Linked DNA regions of Homo sapiens: region 1 is linked to region 2. Evidence: fine-mapped expression QTL. Tissue or cell type: whole blood. Region 2 holds a variant in brackets; the other region holds the start of a gene. All regions are shown on one strand. Distances are between the middles of the regions.

Region 1 (11,181 bases), 29 kb before region 2:
GGAGAAACCTGGAATGGTTAGAAAATACTACTCTTAAAAGTAAAGGGGCTGGAGGACCAACAAAACCATTGTATCCCCTTTTGGACTTGGGAAGTAGAACATTAACCACTTGCTAATTATAGCATCTCCCTTAACCAATTCTTATCTACAATTGTGACTTACCCTCAGTGTTGTACAATGTGTATCACACAATGTGCTAGCTTGTTTCTGTGGCTTAAGAGAATTCACCATTTCTATCTACTACCCAATAGGTGAATTAGATAACTCTTCCATTTGTATATTTTATTCTGTAAGAAAAATTCAAATTGCTCTTATTTGTCATACTATTAGCTAATTTATAAGCGCTAGCCCTCATTCAAAGAAGGGTTAAGGATTTATAGAATTCCTATATTCTCTGGAAGCATCAGTAACCTAAAGGCTAGAGCATGGTATGGGCATGTGCATGATGAATATTTTTGATGTATAGTTCATATATTTGTTTCAGTGGTTTGGTGTTAGAACTGCTAGAAGGGAATCTCACTATCTTTTCTTCCTTTTTGAGATAGTCTTGCTCTGTCATCAGGCTGGAGTTCAGTGGCGCAATCTCGACTCACTGCAACGTCCGCCTCCTGGGTTCAAGCAATTCTCCTACCTCAGCCTCCCAAGTAGCTGGGACTACGGGCATGTGCCACTATGCCAAGCTGATTTTTGTAGTTTTAGTGCAGATGGGGTTTCACCATGTTGGCCAGGCTAGTCTTGAACTCTGACCTCAAGTGATCCACCCGCCTCAGCCTCCCAAAGTGCTGGGATTACCGGCGTGAGCCACCGCGCCTGGCGACTTGTGCTAACGTTAAACCAAAATTATGGGGGGTCATTGTTTGTGGACTGAGTTTCTGCACTAGGTCCTAGCAGACCAAAGTAGTTACATATATTAAGTGCCACACAGTTACATGGAAACTTTACAGACCAGTTTTTCCTGAAAACAGAAAATCCCAGTCTGTCTGAATCAGAATAATAAGGAAGTCCCTTCTTCTTTAACCCTTAAAAAAAAAGTAACCCGATGTTAACCAATCAGTTATTTTTCATTGTTTTGTTTCCTTGCTCTCATCTTACAAAACCCACTATTCTGCTGTTTCTCATTGGGAGCTTTCATTCTGTTTTGTAGAATGGAGGCTGCCCCATTCATAAGTTATGAATAAACGCCAGTTAGATCTGTAAGTAAATTTGTTGTAATTTTTTTCTGACACTAGGAATTGCCAAATGACCCTTCACACGGGAAGTACTAGTTTTTGTTTTTACCAGTCCCAGTCCCCTATGCCTTTTTAAAAAAGAGATGAAGTCTCACTGTTACCCAGGTAATTGCATTGGCTATTTACAGCCACGATCATAGGAAACGCAGCTTCAAACTACTGGCTCAGGGGATCTTCCTGCCTCAGCCTCTCGAGTATCCTGTATCTTGCTAACAGAGCATGTTGACAAACTTGGATTTGTGCCCATCAAATAAGTTTGAACTGTAATTATATACTTTTTTTTAGGCCTTCAGCTTTGCAAAACCTCTGCTTTTGAAATACTTTTTTTTTTTTGAGACGCAGTCTCACTCTCTTGCCCAGAATGGAGTGTGGTGGCGCTATCTCAGCTCACTGCAACCTCTGCCTCCTGGATTCAAGTGATTCTCGTGCCTCAGCCTCCTGAGTATCTGGGATTACAGACGCCCACCACCACGCCCGGGTAGTTGTATTTTTAGTAGAGATGGGGTTTCATCATTTTGGCCAGGTTGGTCTTGAACTCCGGACCTTAAGTGATCTGCCTGCCTTGGCCTCCCAAAGTTCTGGGATTACAGGTGTGAGCCACCACGCCCAGCCGGGTGCTAGTTTTAAAAGTTTCAGAGTTGAAAAGTATTAATAGGTCTCACTATGTAGCACGGTTGTAAGTACTTTATATATATATATGATGTAATCACAACTGTGATAAACATTGTCCTCATCACTCACCCATTTTATGGATGAGGAAACAAGTCCTAGAAAAGTAACTTCCCAAGGTCACTCTTAGGGCAGAGCTACGATTTGAACACCTGACTTCTGAATGTGAGTTCTTAGTTGTCATCTCTTTGCATTCCCCAGAGTAAAGCCATTTTTACACTGAAAAAGTGCCTCCTTTCCTTTTTTATCAGTCCCTGATGCGCTTGTGAGATTACCGGAAAACCTGTCACAAATCAAACTGTTTATCTTAAAGAGTTGATTTTCAAGACTGGAGTTTTCTGATTGGGTATGGGTGTTGTCCCAATCTTATCAGTACATTTAGCTTAAGGAGAGTCCTAATCGAAAGGACTAGCACAAAATAACCCATTTCTTTCATTTCAGTTTCATTCCAGAAGGAAACACTTTCTGAACCTAGACCCTAATGCCTAGGCTATGCCTTGCAGGGCACTAATGTCAAAACTATTGCTTTTGGGTGGCTTGGAAAGAGCAGAGGGACCTGTCTGCTCAAGGGCCAGCTATTTGAAGTGCAAATTGCCCTAAAGTGTAGTAACTCCCTTTCTGCCTAGAGCCAACAGGCTCTGAGAATTGAGCCCCCAACCTGATTTCTTCCATTATGGCTTGTGGAATAAGCTTTACAGTTTTCTATGAAGATTAAATAAGCACACATGTCAAAGTGTTTTGAAAACCATCAGTTTTACTATGAAAAGCATCTTTCAGGAGTTGGATGGTTTTCTCTGGTTATTAAAAGATTTATTTTTATAAGAGTTTTTCTCTAACATCAAGACAGAAGCTGTCCTCAATGTGGCCTGCAGTTAACCAGGTCAAATTTAAGTTAAAATTTGCAATAAAGTAGCCCCGGAAGGAAACATGCAACATGCAACTGAATATTCACATTCAGTTTGCAAGTTCCAGGAAGGCAGAAGTTCAGGATCAAGGGCTGGAGCTGGGCTGCCAGCACAGTCCCTAGGCATCCTTCACAGAGGGGAAAAAGCAGAAGCTGTGTAGTCTAAAGACCCTGGCTCAAGCTGTCTTCGTAATCTTTTTGCTGCTTGGGCTGCTCTCGATGTCTCAATGTTGGGAAAGAACAAGGCTCAGCCAACAGTAAGGACCTTCCTATGTGCCAGCTACCATGTGCTGTAATCAAGTGTTTTCTTAGTTCCCCTTACACCTCCTCTGTATTTCAGAAAGTCCTCTACCCTGAAAATGTGATGAGAGTGCCACATGACAACTTACCTTCTTATGCACTCCATTGGTCGGCCATTCAGCCAATATCAGATTTGGGGGTCTAGTCAGGTCTTGCTTCCCAAGCTTTTCAGAAACCCTGATGAAACAGGCATAGGGTCTAAACTTAGGGAGGGCAAAACTTACAGCCAACTCCAAATGCAGCAAGCAAAATAAATAAGCGCCTAAACCATTGAATCTTTATGTGAAAGCCATAGCCCTTTAGAGCTAACATTTGCAATCTTCTTAATTATAGGAAGTAGATACAGAGGGGTAAAGTTATTTAACTGGGAATCTACCCCACACCTCAAAGGTTAGGTCACTAATTGCGGGTGCACAGGAGAGATGGTAGGATGGGAGGGACAGGAGAAGACATGTTTAGATATATCTGGTAAATAATTTGGTGGTGGTGGGAGCCTTCATTCCCACCCCCAACCCGCCCCCCCCTTTTAAAAAAATCCTATTTCCGAGACAAAAGCAATATAACATAACTTTGTATTTCCTGAAACTTCCAGTTTCTAAGAACTGTCCAAGAGTACTTACACGCACATTCCCGAGACCGTTGGAGTTGTTCGATAGGTCTAGGGAGGGATCTGGGGATACGTGTTTTACAAGCACCATGAGCGATTCTTCAAAGTTGGGTGTTTGAATCAAAAGAGCAGAATTCATGATACCGTTTTGTGCACTCCTTGAGCTAAAAGGTAGTATCCCACCCTCTCCATAAACAGACACCTAAGTTATAAAACTTATGCGCTCGATATGCAAAAATAGCTCGTTTTATACAGAAACGATCCTTTCCTTCTTTTCCTTATATATCTTTTAACTGTCATCACTCCTAACCTAGACCTAGAGTGGCTTTTTCCGGTCCTAGCTCTGCCGGACACACGCTCTGCCCAGAGACCCGATCCACCCAAGGCCAGGCGGTCTGGGGTCACGTCTGTGTCCAGCGTCCGGCGGGCGCTGCCGTGCCGCTCTCCCATTGGCTGGAAGTTCCCTCGCGGGCCGGCGCGGCTCCTGCTCGCCACGCCAGCCCATCGGGCTACGGACCGCCCAGGGGGGCGGGGCTTGGGAGTTGGGGCGGGGCCCGGGTGAGGGGCGGGGCCTCGGGGCGTCGCGGACGTCCTGGCGGCCTACTGCGTGGGAGGGAGTCCTGGGCCGCGCCCCGCGAGGCCGGGCCCAGGCCGGGCCAATCCCGGGCCACTGGGCGGGCGACCGTGGGGCCTGGCCGGCCCGCCGGAGAGCCTGGGGGTTGGGGACGATGGGCTAGTTCCTGGTGCGTCACGGGGGAGTTCCTTAAAGGGGAAGCGAGCCGGGCTACGGGGCGAGCGCGGGGTGCGGTGGTCGGCGGGGAGGCCCCCGCGCTTTAAAATAATGCCCGCGGCGCCCGCGCGACCATGCAATGGCGAGCGCTCGTCCTGGGGCTGGTGCTCCTCCGGCTTGGCCTCCATGGAGTATTGTGGCTCGTCTTCGGGCTGGGGCCCAGCATGGGCTTCTACCAGCGCTTTCCGCTCAGCTTCGGCTTCCAGCGTCTGAGGAGCCCCGACGGCCCCGCGTCGCCCACCTCGGGGCCCGTGGGCCGGCCTGGGGGGGTATCCGGGCCGTCGTGGCTGCAGCCGCCGGGGACCGGGGCAGCGCAGAGCCCGCGCAAGGCTCCGCGGCGTCCTGGGCCGGGGATGTGCGGCCCAGCCAACTGGGGCTACGTGCTGGGCGGCCGGGGCCGCGGCCCGGACGAGTACGAGAAGCGCTACAGCGGCGCCTTCCCTCCGCAGCTGCGTGCCCAGATGCGCGACCTGGCACGGGGCATGTTCGTCTTTGGCTACGACAACTACATGGCTCACGCCTTCCCCCAGGACGAGCTCAACCCCATCCACTGCCGCGGCCGTGGGCCCGACCGCGGGGACCCGTGAGTAGCCCCCGCCGCCCGGGGCCGCGCGCCCACGCGCTTCCTTCCGCCCTCCGCGCCGGGGTGCAGCCCTCTGTCCTCCGGGGCCCCCGAGGGCGCCAGGGCCGTTAGGGTCCCGGGCAGCGCTCCCGCGCCCTGTCCCGTGTGAGTCCCTGTGAAGACCCCCGAGCTTGAGGGTGCGGGGTGGGCCGGTGGCCTTCCTCTCCTGATTCTCCCGGAATCTCCAAACTTCAGAACTGCTGTCCAGCTCAGTGTCTTACGCGTGAGGATACTGAGGTCCAGGACCAGAAGGGACAGTGGCAGTGCCAAGGGCTGGCTTGGAGGGCTTTCCACTTCCATCCGACCCCTTCCTCCGGATGAGCATAAACTCTAAATGAAATCTCCATCATGCCCCCCGTGTAAACGCAGCCTCAGAACAAGCCTTTACCTCGCACCCCCACCTCTATCACATTGCCACACCCACGTCTTTTCTATGTAAAAAGCCTATAGTTGACTTCTCCAAAGCCGTCCATTGAGTTTGAGGCAGAACGGGGTTACAGCCTCTCCTTCACAGGGGCTGCTTCTTAGGCTGAGGATAGTTAGGTGGTGGGGAGGGAAGCTATGTGGCCCACTTTTGGGGTCCAGATACTTGAGGTGAAATTCACTGGATGCCAGATTGACTGTCAACGTCATCGCCCTGTACGATCTGTCTATAAATCCCCCGCCTCTGGTGGCGTGGTTGTCCGGGAAGGTCAGGCAGTCTTCCCTGTTCACCAGCCTTGTTTGCAAAGGCTGAGCTCCAAGGGTCACCACTGTTGACATCAAAGTCCAAGAGGGCAGTACACCCAGCTAAGGACCTCTTACCTGTAGGGAAGGAATGTGCATTGCCATAGACCCTGTTAGTCCAAATAGTTGACTCCCCTCCCCTGGATGGGAGTGGAGGAGTTGGTTTGCTCAGTGTCTTGGCACCGTCTGGGGCAAGCATTTTCCTTCACCTGGAGGAAAGCAGTGGAGTCCAGTCCTTAGGTTCTGATAAGGAAGCCTATAGACTAAACGGAGTTGGGTTTTTAAAATGGTGTGGTTATTTACACATTTATGTTTTAAATTGCAGTTTGAGAGCATGATTTCTACCGAAGCAAGGGGACATCCCAAGCTAAATTCAAAGGACTGAGCCTTTTCAAAATTCTAGGAAACCGATGAGTTTTTCTTGCTTAACCATAGCGTTTATACGTATAAGTGTATTTTCTATCTCAATTTTTTTGAGAAAAAATATTAAATTTTGAAAAAAAAGTATTTGGCCTTTCCAGATTTTTTGTTTGTTTTTTGAGACGGAGTCTCGCTTTGTCGCCCAGGCTGGAGTGCAGTGGCGCGATCTCCGCTCACTGCAACCTCCGCCTCTGTGGTTAAAGTGATTCTCCTGCCTCAGCCTCCCGAGTAGCTGGGACTACAGACTCGTGCCACCACGCCCGGCTAATTTTTTGTATTTTTAGTAGAGACGGGGTTTCACCGTATTAGCCAGGATGGTCTCATCTCCTGACCTCGTGATCCACCCGCCTGGGCCTCCCAAAGTGCTGGGATTACAGGCGTGAGCCACCGCTCCCGGCCATGGTCTTTCCAGATTTTAAGAAATGAATGAATTATTTGGCTCACTTAACTAGAGGGGACTTTATACCTATAAATGTATTTTCTTTCTTAGTTTTTTTTTTGGGGGGGGGGATAAACTTCATTTAATTGTGGTCTTTTTTTTGTTGTCAGCCTACATCATGCTTTGATGTTTTTTCTTTTTAAATCAACATCATTAAAGTTTGAAAAATATCATAAAATCCCACCAGCTATTTTAAATTTATTTTTGCCACTAGTTCCTACCCATATGTCTATGCATGTTTTACATAGTTGCAATCATAGTATGTGTACATATTTTGGATCTTAATTTGTGCTTTTCCACTAGTGCTCTTGGTATTACAAGAAGGGAGAGAGCACTTCCAATAAGTGCCTTTATTCCTGCTCACAGACTGTTTCTCAGATTACCTTTTATCAGGTGGACTGAAGTTGAAAACAGTTTAACGGGGAATTGTGATAACACTTTCATTTGAGAATATGACGGTTTGGAGAGTGAGTTGATGACATTTTAATGTTTTTCTTAATGAACCTTAAAAGCGCTTCTGGAGAACCTTAAGAATCCCTTCCCAGCAAAGTGAGGTGGTGGTTGATTTAACTTGCTGGTCTTTGTGGTATCATGTGTGCTGTTGGCCTTTATTTCAGGATGAAGGCTGCCGATGAGTGTTTTGGTTTGGTTATGCATTGGTTTGGTTATGCGTAAGTTAAGGTCAGGTTGCTTTGAGACAGATGTGTTATTGGAAAGAGGGTTTTAGAAGTATTGAGGAGGTGGGGATGGCATTAGGGAAGGGTTGTGCCCTGAGCTGGGTAGGCCCGTTGGTTGGTAAACCTTTGTTGTCTTTGAGGAGGCCAAAGAAGCCTTGCATGGACGCCTCACACTTGCCACTTACAAACAGTGGAAAACTTAATTTTTTGTACTCTCCTTCCTTTAACTCCTCTCAGGCTTTGCTTTTTTTTAAATATTTTTTAAAAAAATTTATTTTTAATTTTTGAGGATACACAGTAGGTGTATATATTTATAGGGTACATGAGATATTTTGGCACAGGCATGCAATTTGTAATAATCACATCATGGAAAATTGGGTATCCAACCCCTCAAGCATTTTTCTTTTGTGTTACAAACAATCCAATTATACTTTTAGTTATTTTAAAATGTACAGTTAAATTATTATTGACTGTAGTCCTCCTGTTATGCTATCGAATACTAGGCCTTGAGGAAAGTTTAAAACCAGAGTATTGTCATGCTGGCTTTGAAACAGGAGGGTACTTCACATCCCCAAACTAAATAATCTGTAATAAAAATTTTTCATATTTTTTGTTTGTTTGTTTAATTGACAGGGTATTGTTCTGTCACCCAGGCTGGAGTGCAGTGGCATAATCATTGCTCACTGCAGCCTTGAACTCCTGGGCTCAAGCAGTCCTCCTGCCTCAGCCTCCCGAATAGCTGGGACTAGAGGTGTGCCCCACCATGCTCGGCTAATTTTTTTTTTTTTTAATTTTTCTGTAGAAGTGGGGTCTTACTTTGTTGCCCAGGATGGTCTCAAACCCCTGGCCTCAAGCAGTCTTCCCGCCTTGGCCTCCCAAAGTGCTGAGATTATAGGTGTGAGCCACCAAGCCCAGCCAAAAATCTTTCAGATTTTAAAAAATCAAATGTATTCTAATGACTCATTTAACAAGAGTGAATTTGCCATTAGAGTATTATATAAAAAGTACACATAGAAAATTTCGGTGCTAAACACTCTTACCGTTTCTCTGTAGTCATATATGCTCCAAACTTATCTTGCCTCAAGTACATGTGACTTGTTCTTGGGGAGGTATCAGGTAAGGAGTTAACATGAAGTGAATAAAACCTGAACACTCTAAAAAGAGCAGATCTGTCTAAGATAACTATGCAAAGTCAGTTCTCACATCCTTAATTTGGGTTGGAGGATCCAAATTTAAAGTTTCTTTGAGTAAATGTGGATATTATATTTTTGTAATCCTGTGAATGGTTAACTGTAGTTCTGGCTTTTGGGCATGTGACCATTCTCAATTTCTTCTCAACTGTATTGCTATTAAAACAACAAAACAAATCTCAAATTAAGCCAAACAAATATTGGCCCCTCAAATGCTTAGGTACTACTAGCTCAAGATGGCCTCCTCTGCATTCCTCTTTCTTTGGAAAGTCCTGCCCTCTTTCAGAGTCAGGCTCCTCTTGTTTCCGTGACACCATCTAACTGTTTGAAGATGATTTTCCTTTATTTGCTCAGTTCTTCTTTTGATTCCTTTCCTTTGAGCTGCGATTCTACATTTTAACCTTATTTGAGGATTGAGTACTGTTGTGTATTCACCTGCATTTCCCTTTGTCTTGTCTCTCCAGATTATCAATCCCTTGAACGCAGGGACTGTTTCTTATGTTATCTCTGTGCCTACACCACACCAGGTAGATTTCTGAACAGCTGTTACAGGTTAAGTATACATGGGAATTTAAATTTAAAAACACATATGTTTGATTTTGTTAGCTACATAATCAAAAATTTTCTATCAAAGGCCATGGTTTTCTCCATCTTTTCTGTTTTGAGGTGAACTTTAAAAATTTACAGTGGGGTGAATGCCATGAACATTTGTACCTGGTGAAGTAAGTGGAGCGTTTAGTTGTGCGGTTCAGCCAGCTGGTTACAGGGAAAGGTATTGAGTTCTTGCTGGATGAACTTAAAGGTATCAGGTTAGGCTGGAGATTGACAAGAATATCTACAAAGAACAAATCCAGAGTCTGAGCTGCATAGTGGGCTGGCATAAATGGAGTCATAATAATTTCATGCTGTTAGGCCAGTAGAGTTTTATGGTGTTTTTTTTTCTTCCTTCATCCTCACTCCCACTTCCCCCTTATTTTGGCACCTTTTGAAAGAGGATGTAGCAATTATTTGGTAAGAAAGAATTAAAAGTGTTCTAATGAGTAAATACCCCAGATCTTAGAGAGGATTTGTCTGACTAGAGTGGAGAGAAGAAACCCCACAGTTACTGCAAGTAATTTTTTTTTTTTTTTTTACTGTGGCAGCTCATTAATTTTTAGTGACTGGGCATTGTAAAAAATATTTTAAAACTGGGTCTATTTTAGTTATAGATTACAAGGCAAAGCACAATAAAACATAGAAAGGAGTTCAGTGCTCACAGTGAGTACCTTCCTTCCATGGGCCTGTGCAGGTGGATAGAATGACACATGCCGCAGATCTGGGTGTGACTCAGGAGAGGGGAGTTACATGTGGTTCTCCTGATTACCATCTAGCTTGGATGCTACATGATGAGGGAGCTGTTTTCTGATGAGGTGGGCTGTTGAAGCCCACTCTGTTTCTAAGCGGCAGAGCAACAGAGTGAAATATTTACACAGAGCAGAACATTCTTGAGTTGGCAGAATTGGGCGTAAGGATCTCCCTGTCTCCTTTGAGCCCCTCCTGCAACCCTTGCACTTTTTGTACCTTTTTTGGCTGTCACTTGCGCTTGAGAGGCATATTTGAATCCATAGCTCTTGCTTTGAGGGGACCTTTTGCTATTGTATAAGTTTATTTCCAGAAAATCAACAAATAGAAAAAACAGGTACAATTTTCCAGCCAAGCAGTTTTCTGACTTCCCAGCTTATAGGAAATGAGCTAGCCCTAGTTCCTAGACTATAGCCCCCATATATATCTCGTTTCAAAAAAACAGTATCTAAAATTTTTTTTTTTTTTGAGACAGAGTTTCGCTCTTGTTGCCCAGGCTGGAGTGCAATGGCATGATCTCGGCTCACCGCAACCTCCGCCTCCTGAGTTCAAGTAATTCTTCTGCCTCAGCCTCCCTAGTAGCTGGGATTACAGGCGCCTGCCACCACGCCCAGCTAATTTTTGTATTTTTAGTAGAGACAGGGTCTTGCCATGTTGGCCAGGCTGGTCTTGAACTCCTGACCTTGGATGATCCACCCACCTCGGCCTCCCAAAGTGCTGGGATTACAGGCGTGAGCCACCGCACCCAGCCTAAAATTTTACTATAAATTCTTTGCTTTAGATTAGATGGTGTAACAGCATAAAACAAGGCAACTGGAGGGTTCAAATAAAATGAGACATTGGAGCTGTTATGCCTCTTTCACATAAGCCCCATTTTCCCCAGCTGAGGCACAGGCCTTTCAGAGACCACAGCAAGCCATCACAACACGAGAGGTGCTGTGCACCAGAAGCTTCTCTGACTGGAAGGTGAGATAAGGACCCATTAGGGTGATCCGAGGAGCAGATGAAGTGCTTTGGGATATGATGGAAGACTGCAGATATCAATGCATCTTGCTGGAAATAAAACTGGAGCTTTTTTGCTTTGGTTGCTAATAAAATCTTTAAACAGTTGTCTTATGTCTTCTCTTACTATCATTTTTTCCAAGCTTCTGCACTTATTTTCTGGATTTTTGGGAATGGGACAAATAAATAAATGAAGTCCCCAGAATTTCTCAAACTGTCCTTTATTTTACTAGTTCTTCATCCCTATTCTCCCAGATGTATTAGT
Region 2 (9,940 bases):
TTCATTCATTCAACATTCACAGAACACTTGCCTTCTCCTGCACTGTTGCATCCCATATTGGGTTAGATGTTCTTTCTAGATGCTCTTTCGTTCCGTGTCACATGCACCATTGAGGGAAAGGACTGTGCCTTGTGTCCATTGCGTCTTCAGAGCCCAACCCTTGTTGTGCAAGAAGTGAAGTGAATGTTGGCAGATGTGTTGGGCTCTGTGCTAGGCCCTGGGGAAATGGTGGTGGATAAAACTTGGTCCCTCCCTGTCAGCATTTACAGTTCAGGGTCTAGGTGTGTGTGAGGTTGGGTGTAGTTCTAGAATTCCAGCAGGAGAACTCTTAGGTAGCACATGGAAATCATCCAGTGAACTTTTATAGACTACCTGTGCTTGGGCCTTAGTTTCAGAATTTCTGAGTCTCTGCGTCTGGGCAGGGTATGTGTAGGGGAGAGGCAGGTCTGGGCATCTGAGTTTAGATGAAGCAGGTGATTCTGCCTTGCAGCCTGGGTTGGGCACCACAGTTGTCAGTCAATTCCTTTTCACCCAGTTGTCACTGAGAAGCATGAGGCCCAAGCAAATTCTACTCCCTGAGTAGCTGGGACACGCCCCCATGATTCAGTTCCCAGTGTGCTACAATTATTGGTTGTATCTTTTTCTCCGTTCCCTCTAGCTGTTTGATGAAGACAATCCAGTACACAAGTCTGGAACCAGATACATGTTCACAACAGAGGGACACATTGTATCTGTGGATGAGCATCTTCGGGAATTGCCATGGAAGGAATTCTTCTCTGAAGAGGGAGGGCAGGACCAAGGGGGAAAGTCTGTGCACAGGCCGAAACCTCATGAGTTAAAAGTCATCAACTCCAGCTCCAACGTGAGTTGCTTTTTCCAGGGGTGATTTGCATATAGAGGAAGAGAAGATACTATGAATTGCTTAGTTGTTCAGACTTCCTGACAGAAAATTGATGGTGTATGCAGATTGGGAGATTTGAAAACACCTCCTAAAGACACCATTTACATAGCTGTTGTCAGGGTATAGGGAAACCGCAGGAGCAGCGGTGGCATCATCACTGCTGGCTGCAGGTGCTGGTGGGGAGAGTGGCTACAGGATCCTGGAAGGGGGGAGCCTTGTGGGAGGAGCGAGCACTCAGCAGGAGCCACGGCTCAGATCTGACTTTCAAGGCCTTGCCTGGAGGGAGCCGGCAGAGTCAACATGTGACCCCTCCCCGCTCCCCCAGTTGCCTGCTGGAGCATCTTCTTGGCTGCCTGGGGCAGAAGCTGGAGGCCGAGGGAGCCTGTTGATATGATCCATCAGTGGACCTGGAGGGGCAAATGGAAGACATTCAGCAAAATCATTTACCAGCAGCAGAAGGGAAAAAAAGCAGTGATGGTCACGATGGTCCCAATGAAGATGCTCTTCGAAGTGCAGCAAACACCCACATTCATTTAAAGTGGGGCTTTACTCCACATGCCTAGATTGTCCTGAGAAGCAGCAGGAAAAATTTGGAAATGGAAGTCCTTGCATCCCTAGTGAAAGTATCAGGTAGTTGTGTTGATTTGAATCAAATAGGATGATTTGGAAGTGAGGATAGGGAAATGTAGGTCAGTCAAAATTTCAAATCTTGTTATCCCCCAGGGCCTTGGTGGTCAGGAGTTCGGCAGCCTCCCCACAGATGGGTTGCCTTGGCATTAGGGGTGCCCTCTCATCGCCGACTGTGCTTCAGTGCTTTTCCGTTAATGCCCCAGTGAAGGTCTTCACCATCAGTCTATGAAGTAAATCGATAGGCCAGAGTGTAGATAACCACCCCCGCCCCCATTTCCATCAGTCATGGAGCGCTGATTGAGTGGACAAAGCATAATCGGGAGGAAGGGGAAGGAGGGTGAGAGGGGGAAGAGTTAATAACAGCCAGCATTTGCAAACACATACCAGGGTTAGCCTTTGCACCATTCTAAACGCTTACGTACATTAATCTGTTTACTTCTAACAACAGCCCTGTGAGGGGTGGTTACTTTTAACATCTCCATTTTACAGCTGAAGAAAGGGAGGCACAGAGAGGTTCAGGTCCCACAGTGGAGCCAGGATTTGGACCCAGGCAGTGTCTTCTCTTTTAGGAAGGAGACATCTCTGACCTGCCATACTCACTAATAGATCTGATCCCATGATTCCAGGCACCAGGGATTCAGGCCCTCAGAAGGGCTCCCGGTTCTGGATAGGAGCATGGCCTAGTGGGGAATCCACTTCCATCCTAGGCGTTTGTCTGTAGTGCTGTTGAAACACAGAGGGTAGGGAGTAATCTCCAGAGAAAATCAAGGCAGGATTCCCTGAGGAGGTCACTTGCTGGAGATCCTTGAAGGATGAAAAGGGGTATCCCAGAAAGGGTGTTCAGGCAGAAGCAGTAGCACCTGCAAAAGCACAGAGATGTGGGCTGGTGGGGGCAGTCGGGACCAATGGAAGGACCGGCCAGTCTTGATCTTGCCAGGGATGAGGAGCAGGGTGTAGTAAGTTCAACTTACTACAAAGCGTGGGGAAAATGTTTCTTTGGAGATGAAGCAGATAATGAATGTATTTAGACAACTGCTTCCAGGGATGTCACAGTTGGTTAGTTCTCAAGATGTGCATCTGCTTTGAGGAAAAAAAGTGGTGGGGGTGGGGGGGTTTTAATTAAAGAAATAGTCTTAAGCATTTAGAGTTTAGTGAGTTGTGAATGAGAAAAACATAGCTCAGAAAAACACAGTATTTTCAAGTAGCAGAAATGTTTTCTGAAATTCTGGGCGGACTAAGGACCCCAGGGATGTGGCTTTCAGTCCTGGCCACGAAGCAGTTGCTGCGATGCCTTTTAGCTTCCCTGGATCTGCCATTTCTTTATAAAGTGAGTGAGGATGTTAAATTATGTCACTGGTCTTCACCTGAGGGTGATTTTGCTCCTCAGGGAACATTGGAACAGCGTCTGGAGACGTTTTTGATTTTCACAGCTGAGGCGTAGGAGTTGCCACTGGCACCTAGTGGGAGAGGCAAGGGGTGCTGCTGACCGTCCTGCAGTGTACAGGCAGCTTCCACAACAGTTACTTCCAAACGTCAGTAGTTCACAGGCTGAGAAACCCTGGATTAAGTCATCCAGTCACATTTCCTGAGAGAGCAACATATGAGTTTTTAATTTTCCCTCGTTTTTGTCTTTCTAGTGCAATCGTGTACCTGATGAGAGGAGGTACTCCCTGCCCTTAAAGAGCATCTACATGCGACAGATTGACCAGATGGTTGGTTTGATTTGATCTGCTCTCTGTGAGGCCTCATCTTGAACCAGACCTTAACGACCAAACCCAGACCATGCCAAAGTCCAGTCTGAAATGAAAGGGGACAGAAGTCTTGCTGTCCATGGTGGTGTAGGAATTTCTGTGCAACACCTCACCACGTCTGGTTAATCCTTGCACACTTCAGTGTTTCTCTCCTGTTCAATAAAATGCCCTGTTAAGGATATAATTTGAAGTGAGAAGATACATGGAAATTGCCCTCTTATGACATGTTGATGTTATAAGCACAATAGATGGGGCATCTTTGGATTGATGTTCACAGCTTTATACTTCAGAACCTAAGTCTCTTCACTTTGCTGGCACCTGCTATACTGGAGTATTGCTATGTCTTTAAAAAATTTTTTTTATTATATTTTATTTTTTTGAGACAGGGTCTTGATATTTTTTTGGGACAGGGTTACCTGGGCTCAAGTGATCCTTCTGCCTCAGCCTCCCGAGTAGCTGGGATTACAGGTGAGCACCACTGTACCTGGCTAGCTACTTCTTTGTTAGAGGATTGAGAATGAAATTTCTGCAAAAGGGCCCATGGTTCATTTGGTATCCCTATTTAATTGCATTGAAAATGTCATCCTTTCTGTTGTTAGATAATTGGGGTCTTCCCCTGATATCCAACCGTGATTTTGGATCACATGGGAGAAAAAGTCATCCAGTTTTTCATGTTTGCCTCAAGTAATCTTTACAGTGTTACAAATTATTTGCTTAAGAAGAATGGTCTTAACCAGAATTCTTAACAGATAGTCTCTTAGGTTATTATGTTATGGTCTAAGAGGTTAACTGACATCTTTTGGGTGGTATTTTGCATTTTGAATATGAACTTACCTGAGGAACTCCCATAGTTCCAGAATCAGGTGCCTTTTAGGGAGAGAACAATACCTAAGATTGTCTGAGCTTCCATCTTTCTCATATTTCCTAAGCAAGGATTCTCACTTCTGACCATATTTGGGTTAGAGTTCTGTTTTGTTTCTGTTTTCTGTGTCTAGTGCCAATTAGCTAAATCAGGGAGAAAGAAATGATCACATGACTTTTAGCATCCTTGAGCCATTTCTCTGTGTAATACAGGCTTTAGATTAGTGCCTTATATTGGTTTTGGTTTGGGGCACTGGATGTCGCAGCTACTGCTATGGTTTCAGGAGGCCTGTTTAGCCACATGGTGAGACCGTGGTGAAAGGGGGATGGAAATTGCTTGGCCAGTCTTTGCCTTTCATCCTGTAAAAGTAAGCATGTAGAAGGAGGAAGTTGTGCTAAAATGCCTTTGTTTTTTTGTTATTATTTTCTTAGCCAGAACATCTCTCTTTGAACTCACACTGATACACACCTGCTACTCTTACACAGTGCAGCAGGGTTGACTCTTAGTCTGGCTTCCATGAAGCGTCATGGGTGGAAACGCATTCTAGTAAAAAAGGTAGGAAATCCCTAAAACTTCCAGCCTCACATAGCACGGTTCTCACCTGTCACTGTTTTCCCACCTCTAAGGATTTCATGTACATCTTTTCAAAGCTAGAAATAAGCACTGTCTAAGTTTATGTTGCATTTTTAGTCAAAAGGGAGAAATCTTATTCCTTCTTGAAAATTTTAAGTGTTATGGTTTTATATAGTTCAGTTCTTTGAGATTTTTGAAAAGAGTATTTTCAGTAATAAACGTGCCATCTCTATCTCTTAAACATTTATTACAACAATTGTTTTAAAATAGAAAAAATAAAATGCTTCTATTTTACCTTTTTTCATTTCAGAAGCATTATTCTGTTTATTAACAGTGTCCCATCTACTGAATAGAAAACTTTGAGAATAATATATATATATATTTTAAATGTTTTCACTGACTCATTGAAAATGTTAATTACACACACATGCATGCATGCACACACGAGCATACTTGTACCTTTGTCTCTGGGCAAACAGGTGGGACTGTTAGTGACCCATTTGGGAAAATAGAGCATCTCAGAGAAGGAGGTGAGTTCTTCCTGCCTGTGATTTCTCTTGGCGCTCCCCTCCTCTCCCGCTCTGGCTTCTGTGGCGGCAGTGGTGGGTAAGCACTCCAGTGTTCTCTTAATGAGGCACTTTGCCTGTCACTCGAGCAAGCCTGGGTGTTCCTTCCTCCTCATGCTCCTGGAATAGGGAATAGGGATCTCATGCTTGCAAACTACACAATGCTGCAGGTGCTTCCCAGGGGCCACAGGCTGTCAGGAAACGTGTTTTATGTTAAGTCACAAACCCACTTGACTTCTGGGTACTGGAATTAATACCAGTGGGTGAGACTGAGGGTGAGTGAGTTAGTACATATTAATCCTGGTTGTTGAGCTTCCAGACTACCCCGTCCAAAGTTTGATGCTATGTAGTCAGTGGTTTGTGGGGCTGGATGCCAGAAGGTTCTTTGAGCCAGTTTCAAAGGTTACTTGTTTTTTTTTTTTTTTTTTAAAGTCAGAATGTTAACAGCTGTGATATATCCTGCAGGGCTTTTGCAGTTTCTTCTGTTCTGTGTTCTGAAATACTGGGTAGAGAATGGCTGAGGAGGAGATTACCAGAGAAGTTGCTTTGCTCAGTGCTTTGCCCCAGGATTGCCTCAAATCTGAGTGGACTTCATCCTTTGCGGCGGCTCTGAGCCTGGCCCATCTTCCTATTCCCACGTGTAGCTAGTGTCTAGTGTCAGCTTTGCTCA[G/A]TGTGGTGGAAACATTTTGCAGAACTGTTGTAGAAAGCTGCCTTATAGTTGGCTTGACAAAGCATAATTCTCTCATAACAAACTTTCAAATCATTACAGTAGCTTAGCTACTTTAGTTGATGTGACCGAGGAATCCCTTCTAGAATCATAGGTGGCAAGGGAGGGTTTGCTAGCTCTCCATTTGCACTGGCCATTGTGAAAAACCAGCTTCTGTATTCAAATCTTTCCTTCATTTTTTTAAATTTTTTTTTTGGCAGCGCTTGTGCTGGAACTTACTCATTGTAACTGAATCCTCAGGGCTTTTCTTGTTTTAGATCATGGACTGTGCACGTGACACTTAAATAATTTTCTATGTATTTAAAGAAAAATGCACCAGGATGGTGTCTGTGCACGTGACTATTAGAGGAGCGTCTGTAGAAGTACCTGGTTTGGTCAGTGCAGTTGTGCAATCTGAGGGCCTTGTTTCCTCCTCCCCTTTCCCCTTCTCCCCACCAAAGGAAAATATCCCTCTTAATGATTTCGTAGTTCAGTTTACTGAATGATTACCACCTGTAATTCCTCTTTGGATTGTGTAGACTCAACATGAGACATTCCTTTCTGCTTTCTGGAGGGCACCAGGGGCCTTTCTCTTTGATAAATTTTTTTTGTCTGTTGACAAAAACAAAAATCTTTTTTCAAATGTAGTGCTGGTGAAAAGGTAGGGCTGAGTGATTACCTTAGCCACAGGGTGGCTGAGCAGGAACTTTAGAAGAAAATCCTGAGCTTTCCTGTCCATTCCCAGCATCCAGCTCCTATTCTAGTGCCTCTTCCCTGCAGGGCAGGGACCCCTTGGGAAATCGAGGAGGTGGGACGGGCTGGGCCCTGTGTCCCAGGTTTCACAGGGCTCAGGGTTATGCTCCCGCTTGAATCTGGACGTGAATCTGGTAAAAATATCAAGTACCTGTGGAACTCCCTGATTCTATACCCTCTTCCTTCTTTCTGCAAGGCAGAGGAATAATATTTTTAAAGGTTATTTTGTTTTAGTTTTAAATAGCAAAACACAAGCTGCATTTTTATTTATTTTGCATAAGAAAGGTAAATCTTTTTACAAAAAAAAGTATAGAGTTGGAAACTCTGGGAAAACTTACGGAAATACACAAATGCTTCTCTGTAATGTGCAATATGCTTTGCAACTGTAGATGATATTTTATGTTTAATCTGTAAATAAGAAATGTATTTAAATTAAAAGGGATCTTTTTGTAAAAGGACCAAATGTTCTTTTATAAATGTAATAAGGAATATCTTGCTCTTTAAAATTTATTAGGATTTTTATGAGTAATTTTTATTAAAAGATTTCTTTTTTTGAGTTGTCATCTTGTTTCTTTTTTACATTCTCATGTACATTACATTACATGCAAGACAAATGGGAGAAAAGTCTCTAAAGGAAGTGCCCATCTAGATGAATAAAACCTTGCTTTTTATAGCTAAGCCCTAAGTAATACCTCCCCCATGGAATTCCACTACATTTTTGTATGTCACACTCTTCCATTAAATGCCCCTCACATGCAGGTCAGAACTGCTTTTCATGACTTTTGTCCCAGCCCTGGCCTTCCCCTCTGCATCAGCCTCCTTTCTCTTGGCCACTGAGTTCATTGTCTATTCTTATTGCCAATTAGCTGAGTGTATCTGGGATCTAAAACCAGTTCTCTGCGTTATCTAAGCAAGGCGCTTCATTTCTCCTCACCTCTGAGAGCAGTGGCACTTCACGGTCTGTGTGGGTGCAGAGGCCCATGGGAAGCGTGTGGGTAGAGGGTTCTGGAGGGCTGGCCTCCCTCCCTGTGTGTTGCCACTGGGGACCATGGTGGGATCCTGAGGAAGGGACCTGCTCCTGCTTTGTGACATCTGTGTCCCAGCTTTGGTCACAGACAATTTTGATACGGGTTTTTTTTTTTTTTTATTTGAGACAGAGTCTCACTCAGTCACCCAGGCTGGAGTGCAGTGGCACGATCTCGGCTCACTGCAACCTCTGCCTCCTGGGTTCAACTGATTCTCCTGTCTCAGCCTCCCTGAGTAGCTGGGACTACAGGCACGTGTCACGACACCAGGCTCATTTTTGTATTTTTAGTAGCGACGGGGTTTCACCATGTTGGCCAGGCTGGTGTCAAACACCTCACCTCAGGTGATCTGCCCATCTTGGCCTCCCAAAGTGCTGGGGTTACAGGCATGAGCCACCACGCCTGATGGGCCTTTTTAAAGGCCACGAAGCATGACAGGGCGAAGGAGAGACTCTCAAGGCTGGAAACACCTTGCCCACATTGAGCTCTACTATTGTGAGGGGTGGTGGGGTTGTGTTTGTCAAGTCTTGTGGGTTTGTGATCTTGACAAAACCAAGCAAGTCCAGTGGGCCAAGGGACCAAATCAAGAGCCACAGGGTTCTTGCCTTCCTGCCTTTCCCACTCCAGGCTGCCTCAGTAGTGGGAGCACCAGGCCCTTTGCCATCTGTGGAGCAAGTGGAGCCCAGCAGTCCTGTATGAACGCTGTAGTCAGTGTCGGGTGGAGTATGGGGACTCTGGGCCACACGGTGCTGGGTACAATTCCAACTCTACCCCTAACTTAGCTGTGTGCCTTGGGCAAGTTACAGACTTGATGGCCTCAGTTTTCCTGTCTAGTAAATGGGTTGATAATAATAGCCCATACTCAGGATAGTTGTGAGGACTGGGTGGATTCATATGTGTAAGGCACTTAACGTGTTTCCTATAATTATGGTCCAGCTGGATTTGACATCCAGGATCAGACCTAGGGCTTAAACAGGGATGCTGGAGGAAGAGTAAGAACATGGCTGGCCATGGGGAGGCTGGGCTGGCCTCCTGGCTTTGTCCTGGATGTGTGGCTTGGGTCAAGGCACTCACCTTCACACGGTGTCCTCACTTTTAAAATCAGAGATGATAGCACATCAACTCCTAGGGTTCCCGTGATGGCAAAATGAATTAGAAGCTACATTTGTCAGCGTGTGAGGCGGCAGCTGCTAAAATGTTTACAGGTTATGTCTCTTTGTCCCTTAAAGTTTTTTTTTCCTTCTTTAATCAAGGAAGTATGCTAATGTCTTCCTAACTCAGAAACCCAGACCAGGAGGTGCAGAGTGGTTGGGTGTGGTGGTACCTGTGCCCCAGCACACCTGGTCTTTGTGCTTAAGCGTCTGGCCCAGTCTGCTAGTCAGTGGCCTAAAGAATGAACAGTCCCTCCCCACTCTGGCTCTGTGTGTGTGTGTGTGTGTGTGTGTGTGTGTGTGTCTGTCTATGTGCTTGTGTGCACTCACGTGCATGTGTGTATGGTTTAAAAGCCTGTTACATTCAAACCTCACCCAAGTCCTGAGCGGTAAATTCTATGATTCCATTTCTCCAGCAGAGAACCCTGGAAAGTAAACAATCTTGCTTCCTGTCACAGCGGAACCCACTGGAAGCAACAGCCTGACGCTCTCTTTTAGATGCCGTCAACCTTAAATGATGAAATTCAGAAAATATGATGAAGTATATTAGATATATGATTAAGAGTTTATTAGATCCCAAAGCCGGGAATAACCGGTTACCCAGGGAACACAGACTCCAGAAAAATGGGGTCAATGCTCCCAAGTTAGAAGTTAAGGTCTTGCTTACATAGGTAGAAGACAAAGATATCTAGTAGGATTAAAACATATTCCGTACGAGGATGGTTTACGAGTTAACAACAGTTTTGTTACAGTTTTGTTTATTTTCTGTACAGCTTGTTTTCATGTCCTTTCCAATTTAAGAGTCCATTTAACATTCCTTCTTGAGACAGTGTGATAGTCATGAGGTCTTTGTGTGAGAAAGGGAAGAGGGAAGTTAATCTATAGTGAAGATCAACAGTGAAGAAGGAAGGAGTCTTCCCTGGTGCCCTTTAGTCACTTCTTACAAAGCAATGTAGGTAAGGAAGAAGGCTAATCTATAGTCAGAAAAATAAAGGTTACAGATGCCTGAACTCAGGTCCCAT

What was found.
Region 1: it holds the start of EDEM1, and the variant in region 2 is fine-mapped to the expression of EDEM1 in whole blood (INTERVAL, PIP above 0.99).

The regions. Positions count from the first base shown.
Region 1 is chr3:5,183,233-5,194,413 of GRCh38, forward strand. It overlaps EDEM1 (ER degradation enhancing alpha-mannosidase like protein 1), which reads left to right and starts at 4,475. Exons shown (of 12, transcript NM_014674.3): 1 at 4,475-5,082. The coding sequence starts at 4,574. RefSeq lists enhancers at 2,933-2,992, 5,414-5,463 and silencers at 4,104-4,513, 4,754-4,923, 4,974-5,263, 6,461-6,580.
Region 2 is chr3:5,212,661-5,222,600 of GRCh38, forward strand. EDEM1 (ER degradation enhancing alpha-mannosidase like protein 1) reads left to right here. Exons shown (of 12, transcript NM_014674.3): 11 at 659-862; 12 at 3,169-7,298. The coding sequence ends at 3,258. Among named protein-coding and RNA genes, the nearest start is that of EDEM1, 30 kb to the left of the region's middle. RefSeq lists enhancers at 724-1,225, 9,658-9,940. The variant G/A (reference allele first, on the strand shown) is at 5,954.